4 linked regions of the Homo sapiens genome follow. The protein of the gene in region 4 purifies or fractionates together with the protein of the main gene of each other region. This does not show direct contact. Each region holds a gene or a part of one and is shown on either strand. Other genes may lie near its edges.

Region 1 (3,500 bases), on a different chromosome or scaffold from region 4:
TGCATTTATTCGAAGTAAGAATTTGAAAAGACTGAATAGTGGAAGGTTATCTGTGGTGATTACGCCACTGAGAGAAAAGGAGTCCTGTAGAGACCACCCCCATTTTAAGGTTTCACAGCTACCTCACGGAGGTTAAAAACTATCCTCTCATTTTAAGGATGAAATGTGCATATGTTAAAGGAAGTTTTCTTCATGATGAATCATTGCTTATATTAGGGAGGAGCACCTTCTGGAAAACCGCTCAGATGTATTAAAACTTCTCAAGCTGAGTTTTCTGACAGCAAATGCGAAATGAATGCCAAACCTTGTGCCTCTGTTCCTTGGGGTGTTGTCTGCTGTTTGGCCTGGGATGGGAAAACGTTACTGTTTGATGCAGATTGTTGTGTGTACCGAGGTCAATACAGATTAATGATTTCAACTCGTCAAAGGAAGTTTCACTGTAGGGTATTTTCATAGGATGCACAACTTGGAATTCTTGATAAACCCATAGTGAAGGAAGTCAGAGGGAGCAGATAGATGTGCACTCTCGGGAAGATTTCAACCATGTTTTCCTTGGCCAGACCCTGTGTAGCATAGCTGCAGAATACTGGTGAGAAAAATAATCTGAGTGAGAGTATTTCTTTTCTTTTCTTTTCTTTTCTTTTTTTTTTTGAGACAGAATTTCAGGCTGGGTGCGGTGGCTCACGCCTGTAATCCCAGTACTTTGGGAGGCCGAGGCGGGTGGATCACCTGAGGTTGGGAGTTGGCGACCAGCCTGATCAACATAGATAAACCCTGTCTCTATTAAAATACAAAATTAGCTGGGTGTGGTGGCGCATGCCTGTAATCCCAGCTACTCAGGAGACTGAGGCAGGAGAGTCACTTGAACCCGCGAGGCAGAGGTTGTGGTGAGCCGAGATCGAGCCATTGCACTCCAGCCTGGGCAACAAGAGCAAAACTCTGTCTCAAAAAAAAAAAAAAAAAGAGACGGAGTTTCGCTCTTGTTGCCCAGGCTGGAGTGCAGTGATGTGATCGTGGCTCACCGCAACCTCTGCCTCCCAGGTTCAAGCCATTCTCTTGCCTCAGCCTCCCGAGTAGCTGGGATTACAGGCATGCACCACCTCGCCCGGCTAACTTTTGTATTTTCAGTAGAGACGGGGTTTCACCATGTTGACCAGGCTAGTCTGGAGCTCCTGACCTCGTGATCCACCCACCTTGGCCTCCCAAAGTGCTGAGATTACAGGCATGAGACACTGCGCCCGGCCAGAACTGTGTTTTCTGAAGGTTCCGGAAACTTTGGTGCCCTTCCTGGTCAGTAGTGTTAGACCAGTAGAAGGTACAGAAGAGAACACAGGTTGTGGAGTAAAAAACGCCTGACACACTGGATTTAGCAGCCATGTGGAATATTGTGGAAGGACTTAATGAATGTGATATTTCAGCTCTGCTTGATGTTGGGCATCCAGGGGAATGGCCAGTAGTATTTTTCCCTGCCTCCTTGGCAAAGCTGAAAAGCTACATCCAAAGAGGGTAATCATAGAACCCAAGCCTATCCTCAGTGTGCTTAAGCAGGGACTCTTTTGGGAGCTCTCACATTGAAAAGTAAGTGCTGAATTTTGCTTCATGTGAGGTTTTTTTTTTTCAGACGGAGTCTCACTCTGTTGCCTAGGCTGGAGTGCATGGTGCTATCTCTGCTCACTGCAACCTCTGTCTCCTGGGTTCAAGCAACTCTCCTGCCTCAGCCTCCTGAGTAGCTGGGATTATAGGCGCCCGCCACCACACCTGGCTAATTTTTTTTGTATTTTTAGTAGAGATGGGGTTTCATCATGTTGGCCAGGCTGGTCTCAAACTCCTGACTTCAGGTGATCCACCCACCTCTGCCTCCCAAAGTGCTGGGATTACAGGCATGAGCCACCGCGCCTGGCCTCATGAGGTTTTCTTTTTTTTTTATTTTGAGACTGAGTTTCGCTCTTGTTGCCCAGGCTGGAATGTAATGGCTCCATCTCAGCTCACTGCAAGCTCCGCCTCCCGGGCTCAAGCAATTCTCCTGCCTCAGCCTCCCGAGTAGCTGGGATTACAAACGTGCGCTACCACACCCGGCTAATTTTTGTATTTTTAGTAGAGACGGGGTTTCACCACGTTGGCCAGGCTGGTCACGAACTTCTGACCTAAGGTGATCCGCCCTCCTCGGCCTCCCAAAGTGCTGGGATTATAGGCATGAGCCACCGCGCTCGGCCTCATGAGGTTTTCTAATGTCATATCTTTCTTGACAGTTGAGTTTTTTATAATGGAAATCAATTTGTACTTCATACTTTGTTGTACTTCAGGTTTTAGGGTCTGCTTCCTTTGGTAGTAGCTTTTTCTTTGAACAACAAAGCCTTGATTAGTTTAAAGCATTTTTTCTGATAGCTGCCATTCATTTTTCAGCTACAATGCTTAGTTTGTGGAAACTATATATTTTAAAGGACAACACCCACAACTTAGAAGAGTGAATGAGGCCAGGTGCGGTGGCTCATACCTGTAATCCCAGCACTTCGGGAGGAGGAGGAGGAGGCGGGTGGATCACTTGAGGTCAGGAGTTTGAGACCAGCCTGGCCAACATGATGAAAACCTGTCTCTACTAAAAATACAAAAATATTAGCCGGGCGTGGTGGCGTGCCCCTGTAGTCCCAGCTATTCGGGAGGCTGAGGCAGGAGGATTACTTGAATCTGGGAGGCAGAGGTTGCAGTGAGCTGAGATCGTGCCACTGCACTCCAGCCTGGGCGACAGAGTGAGACTCCGCCTCAAAAAAAAAAAAGAAAAAACAGAGTGAATGAGGTAAAAGTTGTCAGATTTTCAGTGACAGTGATTTTAAGTGCAAATTTGGCTTCTAGAACCACTATTGTCCTATCTCTAAGTCTTCTATGTAACCGACCATAACGTGAGTCCCATCTGACTTCAGAGTAAGAATGATAAAGGAGAAAAGTCAATCTTTCGTCAAAATAAACATCACCATACAAGGCAGACCCGTTGTCTGCCGCCTCCATGTTAGCTTTATTATTGGTGATACTGAAGGATGTTTTGTTAGTGAGTATGCCACGTGCTTTCTTTTTTTATCTATTATTTTATTTTATTTTATTTTTTTGAGACGGAGTCTCGCTCTGTCGCTCAGGCTGGAGTGCAGTGGTGCGATCTTGACTCACTGCAAGCTCTGCCTCTCTGGTTCATGCCATTCTCCTTCCTCAGCCTCCTGAGTAGCTGGGACTACAGGCGCCCAGCTAATTTTTTTTGTATTTTTAGTAGAGAAGGGGTTTCACTGTGTTGGCCAGGATGGTCTTGATCTCCTGACCTCGTGATCCGCCCGCCTCGGCCTCCCAAAGTGCTGGGATTACAGGAGTGAGCCACCGTGCCCAGCCTAGCATGCTACATGCTTTCTATGAGACTGCATCCCAAGAGTCAGACATGCAAGCCTCTCTATTTTTTTCCCCCTCAAGATGGATTAAAGGTTTAAAGCCTTCCTTTCTTTTTTTTTTTTTTTTTTTAA
Region 2 (4,223 bases), on a different chromosome or scaffold from region 4:
CAATTATTAGCCACTAGAGACTCTTAACTTCCTTGAGTTAGGATCCTTACCAATTTTTGAGCACCTACCATACGCCTGCTATATGTAGCAATGGGGATGAAGAAAACAATCAAAACAAAACAAAAGAAAAAGGTATTTCCCTACCACCGTAGAGCTCTATATAGAAAGAATACAAAAAAAAAAAAGCAGCCAGAAAATAAGAATTAAAATAATTTGTATTGCACATAGTTGGTGTTTAATTCATAAATACCACTTACAAAGATTTATGACTCAAAGACAAGACAAAGTACTTCCATGGGTTGACACAGGGCTGTAAGCAATTCTTTGAACATGAAAGAAGCTGGACACATAGGTCATATTCCACTCCAGTACTCTTCCCAGTCCATCAAACTGCTCTCTTCCAGGCCAATAAGTACTTTCTGAAGTCTTCCTCGAGTCCAACTTCTAGATTTTTATTCCTTCCTCTCCCTGCATCATTCCAGCCATAGCTCCCCTTTGTGTTCATGCAATTAATTTCGTCTGAGTCAAAGGCCTTGTGTACTCTCGCTCGTTCAGAGGGCAAAGGTGTATTCTAGATCCTACCAGAAATAAGTTTCTTAGGAATTTGGTTTTATTTTATAACAAGCTAAGAGATCATGTTTTTGTGTTTCAAACATATTACTTTTTCTAATTTCCTCAAACTTAGATATTTCCCTTTTTAGTTCTTTCTGAGATTAAGCATCTTAGAACTATTCTCTCTTTTGAATCACGGCACCACCTTTAGCTAAGAGAAAAACATCTAATTCTCAGCTACTTCCAGGCATAATTGCAACAAAATCAGACCCAATATTGAAGATTCACGTTTGCTGTGTGTTTTACCATAATAAAAGTTCGAAATTCTGTGAACTCTCTTAATAAAATGTTCCAATTTCTTACACCCTTTCATGATGACGTTCTCTTAAAGGACTAACTTGAAATTTTCAACATTCAGTTAAGCCCATTTCCTTCCTATTAACAATCAGTATTCAATATTGTGGCACGTAAGTAATACTGTAGTTCTGACAGATTAATTTATATTTGCCTTATTAAGAGTCGTTGCTTTTTTTGCTCCCCGACTTAAATTTTTTTTGTTTTTCCCCAATCTATACGAATAAAAGCGTGAACTATATGTGAAATAGCTGAAGCTCCACTTCCATTATAAATAGACAATGTCCCAAATTGCCGTTTTACAAACATTCTCAATAGCATCAGCCAGTGATAGCAATCCGAATACTCCAGAGAGAATGCGACCAAAACCCACAACAAGCCCCGTGGTCTAGCACAGCAAAGAGAAAAAAAGAGAACACGAAAATGCCCTTGCTCCCCTCCGGGGGCCCCTTTTGTGCGGTTCTTGCCAACGCAGCAGCCCTCCTGCTATATAGCCCGCCGCGCCGCAGCCCCACCCGCTCAGCGCCGCCGCCCCACCAGCTCAGCACCGCCGTGCGCCCAGCCAGCCATGGGGAAGGTGAGCCCAGCCTGCGCCCCGGGACCCCGGAGCTTCCTCCATCGCGGGGGCCAGAGACTGGGGCAGGAGCAGGCCTGTGAGACCTCGCCTTGTCCCGCCTTGCCTTGCAGATCACCCTCTACGAGGACCGGGGCTTCCAGGGCCGCCACTATGAATGCAGCAGCGACCACCCCAACCTGCAGCCCTACTTGAGCCGCTGCAACTCGGCGCGCGTGGACAGCGGCTGCTGGATGCTCTATGAGCAGCCCAACTACTCGGGCCTCCAGTACTTCCTGCGCCGCGGCGACTATGCCGACCACCAGCAGTGGATGGGCCTCAGCGACTCGGTCCGCTCCTGCCGCCTCATCCCCCACGTGAGTACATCCTCAAGTCAGGACCCAGGCCCTCAGGACACTCACTGGATGGTTTCAAGCAAAAGTTAAACATTAGAAGTAGTGATCAGTCACAATAACTGAGAGTGGACAAAAGATGAACTATAGTGGATTAAGTCAATAGAGTTTGCTCCCCACATAAGCAAAGTATTACCCAGACACCAGTTAATCACAATTAATCCACAAATATGTATTGAGTAGGAATGTGTCTCCTGCCCTAGGGGTTGTATAAGACTTAAGTCCTATTCTGGAATCATTTAGAATGGAGTTGTAGAAAAACCACTAATACCCAATAGAAGAATAAATGCTAGAGCGTACAGCAGTTACTGAGCAAACAGGGTAATTTCTTTTGAGACTTTTTCCCGTTTTTGCTCCTCTCTTGCATATTTTGGGTTTTCCCAACCTATATAAGTAAGACTTTCCTTCAAAGGAGAGCAACACACATATTTTACACATGTGTCCCTTTTATCCCATATGTGTGTTAGAACACTAAAGTTTATGCAAAATTCGTCCTTGGACTTACTGATGTTTCTTCCTCCATTTTTCTTCATTGCATTCACAAGTTATTGACTTAGAATTAATTGTTCTTTAATATATGAAGATATTTAACATTTTATATTTTAATATATTTTAAATATTTATATTTTAATATATTTAAAACACTTATATTTTGAATAGAAGGCTTATATATTTAACATATTTTATTTATGTCATTGATTTAAATGATGCATTATCATTTAATTCAATATATTAAATGATATATTTAATATATTTTAAATACTTATATTTAAAATACATATTTTTATATTTTAAATATATTTACATTAAATATATTTAATGAATATAATGTATTTAATAATATATTTATTTAATAAATATGTATTTAATATATTTATATAACTACATAAATTATATTATATTTTAAATATATTTAACATATTTTAAATATATTTTAATATATTTTTAATATATTTCATTTACATTATATGTGTGTATATATATATTTTTGTTGTTGTTGTTTTGTTTTTGTTTTTTGAAACAGAGTCTCACTCTGACGCCCAGGCTGGAGTGCAGTGGTGCAATCTCGGCTCACTGCAACCTCCGCCTCCTGGATTCAAATGATTCTCGTCTCTCAGTCTCCTGAGTAGCTGGAGTTACAGGAGCACGCCACCACACCCAGCTAATTTTTGTATTTTTATTTTTATTTTATTTTATTTTATTATTTATTATTATTATTTTTTTTGACGAAGTCTTGCTCTGTTCCCCACGCTGGAGTGCAGTGGCATGATCTCGGCACACTGCAACCTCTGCTTCCTGGGCCCTAGCAATTTTCTTCCCAAGTAGCTGGGATTACAGGCACCCGCCACCACACCTGGCTAATTTTTGTATTTTTAGTATAGACAAGGTTTCGCCATATTCGTCAGGCTGGTCTTGAACTCCTGACCTCAAGTGATCCACCTGCCTCGGCTTCCCAGGGTGCTGGGACTACAGGCATGAGCCACTGCCCCACCCCTTATATTTCTGTATTTTAAATATATTTTATTTATATTTTAGTAAAGTTATTTTAAAATAAAATATAATTTGTAAAATAAATATAATTTTAATTTATACTTATAAAATATAATTTGAATATAATTATTAAAATAAAATATGATTAACTTTAAATAAAATATAATTTTATACATTTTATAATATATTTTAAATATAGTATATAATTAAATATGTATTAGATATCATATGTATATTAAAATTATACATTATTTAAATATATTTCTTTATAATTTAATGTTTATTTTAATATTAAAACATTTCTTCAAAATGGTATAAAATAGTAATAAGCTGTTACAGGTTTGGATTTGCATGTGGTACAGGATACTGAGCCTAGGAGGCAGCTCATCCTAAGAAATAGCTGAATATATTAAAGAGTGAGATTTCCTTCTCAATTTCTTCACCACACTTCATAATCTTGAAAAGGTACTGAATCTCTGTGCTCGGTAATGAGGAGTTTATAAATATTCAGAATTAATTAAATTTTACCATGTATTTCAAAATGGCTTGAGCGGGTCCTCACCAAGCTGGACTGCCTAACAATGCATTGGAATCATTTCACACTTGCTTTTCTTCTCTTTTTATTTCTGGGTCCGCCAGTCTGGCTCTCACAGGATCAGACTCTATGAGAGAGAGGACTACAGAGGCCAGATGATAGAGTTCACTGAGGACTGCTCCTGTCTTCAGGACCGCTTCCGCTTCAATGAAATCCACTCCCTCAACGTGCTGGAGGGCTCCTGGGTCCTCTACGAGCTGTCCAACTACCGAGGACGGCAGTACCTGCTGATGCCAGGGGACTATAGGCGCTACCAGGACTGGGG
Region 3 (3,500 bases), on a different chromosome or scaffold from region 4:
TTTAAACAACAAAATCCTTTAAAATTCTATCAACTGGGTTTTGCTAAGTGAATAGACTAATTGCTTTAACTAGCAACGGCCTAGAAGTTTAAAAAGAGAGGAAGCTAGAAAGTAAAAGATAACATTTTAATAATCCTGGTTGTTTCTATGCCCTTGATGTTTAGTTCCTCGTGAAAACATGTTTTAGAAAGAATTTTTAAGCCAATCTGGCCATACACGGATTCCTGGATTTGCTTAGCTTGGTCCATGAGAAATATTGTTAAAGAGTGCTTGACACTGATGCTTGTTAAGTGGATCTTGTGAACATCATAAGGAGATTTTTTTTTTTTTTTTTTGAGACGGAGTCTCACTCTGTAGCCCAGGCTGGAGTACAGTGGCACGATCTCAGCTCACTGCAACCTCCGACTCCCGGGTTCAAGCGATTCTCCTGCCTCAGCCTCCTGAGTAGCTGGGATTACAGGCATGTGCCACCACGCCTTGCTAATTTTTGTATTTTTAGTAGAGACGGGGTTTCACCATGTTGGCCAGGATGTTCTTGATCTCCTGACCTCCTGATCCGTCCGCCTCGGCCTTCCAAAGTACGGGGATTACAGGTGTGAGCCACCGCGCCCCAGTCCATAAAGAGATTTTAAAATGTGGGTCCTAGCTACAGGTAAGCTTGGGTTTGTGTAGTGGTGTAAGTTCCCTTGCTACGCCCTTTGCTCTTCTGGGCTGCTAGAGGGTGTAGTAATACTCCCACCTCCAAAAGTTGGACTTCGTAAGCCTTTATAACCCAGCGTGAATTGGAAAGAAGATGCAGGAGGTTTATCTCTATAGATGAGCTCTCACAAGATTAGTCTAATACCTGGGTTGCGCATTGCAGGGCAAACAGCTCCAGGCCCTCAGAGCTGCTCAAGGCTTTTCAACCCAGGGGATGATAATCAATGTTATGTCAATGAATCAGCCAAACAGACAGAAAGATCACATTATGTTTTCTCTGTTTGAAAAGGTAAATACCTCATACATTTTGAAAATTTCAATGAAAATCGTTTGAGTTAAGAAGTTCTAATATTTAAAGAGTTAAGCTTTCATTTTCTGGAAGCCTTTGTGAATAGGGCTGGGTAGATGCAGCGGGCCCTGCATGTTCACTGCCCTTTGTAGCTTTTACAAATGACCTGTGTCATGTCATCCTCACTGTCTTCTCCCCACCAGGATGACAACTGGGGAGAGACCACCACGGCCATCACAGGCACCTCGGAGCACAGCATATCCCAAGAGGACATTGCCAGGATCAGCAAGGACATGGAGGACAGCGTGGGGCTGGATTGCAAACGCTACCTGGGCCTCACCGTCGCCTCTTTTCTTGGACTTCTAGTTTTCCTCACCCCTATTGCCTTCATCCTTTTACCTCCGATCCTGTGGAGGGATGAGCTGGAGCCTTGTGGCACAATTTGTGAGGGGCTCTTTATCTCCATGGCATTCAAACTCCTCATTCTGCTCATAGGGACCTGGGCACTTTTTTTCCGCAAGCGGAGAGCTGACATGCCACGGGTGTTTGTGTTTCGTGCCCTTTTGTTGGTCCTCATCTTTCTCTTTGTGGTTTCCTATTGGCTTTTTTACGGGGTCCGCATTTTGGACTCTCGGGACCGGAATTACCAGGGCATTGTGCAATATGCAGTCTCCCTTGTGGATGCCCTCCTCTTCATCCATTACCTGGCCATCGTCCTGCTGGAGCTCAGGCAGCTGCAGCCCATGTTCACGCTGCAGGTGGTCCGCTCCACCGATGGCGAGTCCCGCTTCTACAGCCTGGGACACCTGAGGTAAGAGGCAACATCCAGGAGGCAGAAAGGATGGCTGATGTCTTGCTGGGAGACAGCTGCTCTGTAGCACGTGAGGGGTGGTGACAGATGCCAAGAGCTAGGACCAGAGTCTGACTCTTTTCTGGTTTGGGGAGGAGATGCGAGGGTGGGGAGGGTGTCCATGTTCATTGAGTTTCTGGACTTCTAGATGGTGCGGGGCAGTTGCTGGCTCTCACCCAGGTTGAGATTTTGCTGGGCTTGTTCTCAAAGTTATTGGCAGCTCCCAAAAATGATGGAGAAAGGAGATGCATAGTGATGGCTGCCTTCTTTGACTCTGAAATTGGCCAATGGACAACAGATAAAGTGACCAGCAGCTCCATTTTGTCCCAAATGTGACATCTGGTTTACCATGTTGTCCCAGTGGAATAATGAATTGTTCCTTTTTTCCCACTCTCAGAGGCCTGGTTTGGGCAGTAAATTATATGGTCATCCGAGGGACCCTCCAATAAAGAATCAAGTGCAGGTTAGAGACTCCAAATGTGTAATCCTTGAGTGTTGTGAAAATGTATGCGTGAGAAAAAGTTAGAAGTCAGTTGGGTTGTCATACTTACATCTCTGCATAAAATCTCATTATTTTGTGGTTAAATAAGAGTGATTACCATCATTTTATTTGCTTCAAGGTAAGCACTTTATATATAGATTGTGTATTTAGTCTTCATAGAACCCCGTGACCTAGGTATTATTAATCCCTGTGTCACAGATGAAGAAACTAGGGCTTAGGGGATTTAAGTAATTTGCACAAAAACATATGGCTAGCCTCATTTAGGATTCACTCAGATGTCATGAGGCCAGGGCTGAGTGAATGCCCCCATAATGGCATCTCTCACTTTGTGGTTAGTGGCCTATTTTTCCATCTGTTTTCTTCCACAGACTATGAACTCCCTGAGGCCAGGGGCCACCCTTATACCTCATTACATCCTCAGTGCCTGGCATGGAGCATGGCTTGCACTGAGATGTTCTCTGGGTGAATGCAGAGCCTGGGACATTTGACTTCAAAGCCTTTACCCTCTCCCAGGCTCTCTGCCTCCTTAGGCAGTATATGCTGATGTGTGTAGCCTGCTTGGGGCAGGGTAGGCACTTAGTTCATTGCAGCTATTACTGCTGTGATCATGTAGCTGGCAGAGCAGCCAGAATCAGCAAGGGCACACCTTAGTGGGTATCAGAACAATCGGCTTTGTCATAGATTTGGCTGGGCTCCAGGAAGGTGGCTCAGCCTGTATTTGGAGTCAGGCCATGCTGCCAAACCATCTTCATGTTGGTGTGTACCCTCCTCCATTCCTCTGGCTTGGCTTGTGCTACGAGAACGGGATGATCTAGCGTTCAAGGTTGCTGCCACCCTAACTGATCCTTGGTGGAAACTGGTGTCCAAGTCACATGTCTGTGCACCAAAAATCTGGGGTTTAGAGTCCTTCACAGATGCCTGTAGGGCTCTGAAGACAAGTAGGTCACCGCTTTGCTGCATATTCATCTCAGAAGGCTTTCTTTTCCCATGTTTTGCATCAGGGAATGACCAGCAGTTTTGTGTTAAACATCTGCTGTGTGCAGAGCCCTGGACACACCAGGCTGGCTGCCTTCAGAGCTCTATCTCAGCACCTGTGGCACTCACAGTCACTTGGAAAGAGACCAGTGCACCGCTGTCTGGTGGACAGGTGCAGAAACAGG
Region 4 (3,500 bases):
GGGAAAGCCAGGGTTGGACCCCACCATCCCTCTGGCTGCCCTTCTCAGAGGGAGCTGCGCCTGCCACCCGGGAGGGCCCATGTGTCTATCATGTGGGTTCTCCCATGAGTTTGGAGTTTGGGCTTGGGACAGGGGAGACTGTGGGGTCAGCTGGCCAGGCGGCGGGGGTCATCCCCAGCGGGAATGAATGGTACGCTGGTGTTGACTGTAGTCAAGTGCCCTGTGGCACCTGGACACACCGTCTGTTCAGAAGAGGCATGAAACCTTTATTGTGGCTGTCTCTGCTCACTCATTGTTTCTGATTGGGCTATTTGAGGAACAGCCTGCCACGTTGGCCTCATTAGCATCGTGAGGCTCTTAATGGAACTGGATCCACACACGTGTACAGACACTCACAAACTCACTCAGGTACGCATGCCCGCCTGCACTAACCCCCAGAGGTCTGTGTATAGGGTTGTGCGCTCCTAAACCCCACCCCAGGTCAGACCCACCCTGACACACATGGCTTGTGACACCCATACCTTCACCCCAGTCACACTCTCACTGTCCCTTATTGGTGACTTTTCATTCACCTTGGGTGACCCACTGGCTCCAGTGGCCAAGGGCTGGCTTACTAGAGGGTGGCTGGGGGCCAGATGCCGGCAGCGGTTGGTTAAGCTTTTGGGACAGGAGGCAGCAGCATTGCCCTGGTGAGGCCACCCCCAGTGGGGCTCGACCCCCAAGCACTTTGGCTCCCCCCACGTCTCCCAGGAGAGTGTCTCTGGGTCCTGAGGCTGTCTGTCCTTGTGTAGTTCTCGTGAGCCTCTTTCTGCTTCGGCCTGTGAGTGTGTCTGGCCCTGCGCCTCCTGTGTGCTCCCCATCTGTGTCCTTTCCCCTCTCCTGACCCTGTCCTTTGTTATCTCTGTCTCTCCTCTCCACCCGTCTAGCTCTTTTTTCTGTGAGTCTTTCTATGTCTTTTCTTCTTCCTTTTTCTCTGCCTCCTCTGTCTACCCCTTCTCTCTCTGTCCCTCTCTCTCACACTCCCACTCTCAGTGTCTGACTGCGTGGCTATCTCTCTGGGTGGGTCTTTCTGTATCTTCACCTCTCTCTATATCTGCCTGTCAGTCTGGACATGTATCCCTCTGACTCTCTGCCTTAGTCTCTTGAGGAGTCTCGGCAAAAGGAGAGCCAAGAGTCCTGAAAGAAGGTGACAGCCAGGCACGGTGGCTCACGCCTGTAATACTAGCACTTTGGGAGGCTGAGGCGGGTGGATCACCTGAGGTCAGAAGTTCGAAACCAGCCTGGCCAACATGGTGAACCCCCGTCTCTACTAAAAATACAAAATTAGCTGGGCGCGGTGGCGCATGCCTGTAATCTCAGCTACTTGGGAGATTGAGGTGGGAGAATCGTTTGTACCTGGGAGGCAGAGGTTGCAGAAAGCCAAGATTGCGCCATTGCACTCCAGCCTGGGCAACAAATGTGAAACTCCATCTCAAAAAAAAAAAAAAAAGGTGATAATGCCTCCCAGGGGGCCACGATCACTTCTGGGCTCCTCCACTGCCAGGCAAGGCGGCAGGAAAGGGAATATCACGTCCTAGGGAGAGTGGATGGGCCGAGTGCAGTGGCTCACACCTGTAATCCCAGCACTTTGGGAGGCCAAGGTGGGTGGATTGCTTGAGGTCAAGGAGTTAGAGATCAGCCTGGCCAACATGGTGAAACCTCGTCTCTGCTAAAAAAGTACAAAAAATTAGCCGGGCTTGGTGATGGGTACCTTTAATCCCAGGTACTCGGGAGACTGAAGCAGGAGATTTGCCTGAGCCTGGGAGGTACAGGTTGCAGTGAGCCAACATCGTGCCACTGCACTCCAGCCTGGACGACAGAGTGAGACCCTCTCTCAAAAAAAAAAAAATAAATAAAATAAAATAAAAAGTAAAAAAAATAAAGAGCTGATGGCTCATCTCCTCTAACTCCTCTGTTGAGAACTCCGGGGTTTCGGCTCTGAACTCTGAAACTTTCTTCAGTGATGAGGCCCAGGGTCATAGGCCTGGGAGCAGGGCTGGGGGTCCAGAGTCATCACTCTGGGAGATAAGGGATAGAGCCCCTTGTCTGTCTGGTTGACCTGATTGACCTTGAACTGAGGGAAGGGTGTTGGGACTTGGAGTCTCCCTCAGAAGAGGCGTTGACCAGAGTGGGGCTGAATTGACACTTTTCTTTCTCCTGGAAGCAGTCAAGCTCAGCCCACCCACCCCGGGCCCCAGCTTCCTGCTCCAAACCACAGCTGTGCTCCCCACCCTGTTCCAAATATTTCTGCCAACTGCCCCAGGCCGAGGGGCCTGTTTAAACAGCCTCCCTGCCCTCTCCTGGCCTCCCCACCTCTGTGGCCTCCCCATCGCTCCCACGGCTTCTTGCACAGGAGCGGCTGTGTTGGCTGTTTGTTTATTGGATTAAGATTTCCTTGGGTGGGGCAAGGACTGACTCCACAGGTCCTTCTTCTCACTTTAGATGCCCAGGCTAGAGGCCAGACCCAGCTTTGGCCTTGCCCCCTGCCCTGTCCAGCCTTCCCCGGACCCCCGCCCCCCGCTCCCAGATGTCTCTCCTACATCCCAAGCCCCAGACTTCTCTACCCTTCTGATCTCAGCTCTGTTCAGTCCCGCATCTGATGCCAGCTGACCCCCTCCCCAGCCCCAAAGTTGAGTGCTCTGGCCCTGGAGGGCAGGATGGGGATGGGACACTCCCCCACTCCCTGCTGAGAGGAGAGGAAATGCCAGGAAAAGGCACTGGGAACAGGAACCCTTGGGTTTTCTAGGGGTTCCTAAAGAGGGACACATGGGGTGTGGTCTTTGGAATGTGGGAGAAGCCTGCCCACTCTCCCTGTTGGCAGAGGCTTGAGCCAGTCCTCCAGTGAGACTTTAGCAGAGGAATAATTCTCTGATGGGCTCGGGGCCCCTGTAAGAATCCATCTCCAGAACAATCTCCCTAGGACCCCAAAGGGCCTCCTATCCCCTGATTTTGTACAGAACTTTGCAGTATACAGAACTGCCTCATCCCATCCTATGAGCACCTGCAGAGATCAAAATTCTTTTTTTTTTTTGACACGAATCTCGCTTGCTCTGTTGCCCAAGCTGGAGTGCAGTGGTGCAGTCTCAGCTCACTGCAACCTCCCCCTCCCAGGTTCACAAGATTCTCGTGCCTCAGCCTCCTGAGTAGCTGGGATTACAGGCACATGCCACCATGCCCAGCTAATTTTTTGTATTTTTAGTAGAGACAGGGTTTTGCCATGTTGTCCTGGCTGGTCTCGAACTCCTGAGCTCAGGTGATCCACCCACCTCGGCCTCCCAAAGTGCTAAGATTACCGTCATGAACCTCTGGGCCTGGCTAAGATCAAAGTTCTTTTTGTAGATGATGAAAGCTCAGAGAGCAAAGGAACTTTCGCAGAATCAATCTTCTAGCAGAACCTGGACTGGAACCTGGGTCTCCTCACCCCTCACAGCCAGGGCTCCTTGCCAGACCATGCTGGAGCT

The links. The genes of interacting proteins can lie anywhere in the genome.
Region 1: the proteins of ZNF385C (region 4) and LUC7L purify together in Homo sapiens (affinity purification with mass spectrometry, with the first as the bait; one large-scale study listed by BioGRID). This does not show direct contact.
Region 2: the proteins of ZNF385C (region 4) and CRYGD purify together in Homo sapiens (affinity purification with mass spectrometry, with the first as the bait; one large-scale study listed by BioGRID). This does not show direct contact.
Region 3: the proteins of ZNF385C (region 4) and VANGL1 purify together in Homo sapiens (affinity purification with mass spectrometry, with the first as the bait; one large-scale study listed by BioGRID). This does not show direct contact.

What each region holds. Positions count from the first base shown.
Region 1 is NC_000016.10:222,950-226,449, reverse strand, and holds part of LUC7L (putative RNA-binding protein Luc7-like 1), read left to right. Parts: intron 1-3,500. UniProt on the Homo sapiens protein: May bind to RNA via its Arg/Ser-rich domain.
Region 2 is NC_000002.12:208,121,725-208,125,947, reverse strand, and holds the start of CRYGD (gamma-crystallin D), read left to right. Parts: upstream 1-1,423; 5' UTR 1,424-1,474; coding exon 1,475-1,483; intron 1,484-1,593; coding exon 1,594-1,836; intron 1,837-4,002; coding exon 4,003-4,223. UniProt on the Homo sapiens protein: Crystallins are the dominant structural components of the vertebrate eye lens.
Region 3 is NC_000001.11:115,662,470-115,665,969, forward strand, and holds part of VANGL1 (vang-like protein 1), read left to right. Parts: intron 1-1,191; coding exon 1,192-1,799; intron 1,800-3,500.
Region 4 is NC_000017.11:42,091,974-42,095,473, reverse strand, and holds part of ZNF385C (zinc finger protein 385C), read left to right. Parts: intron 1-3,500.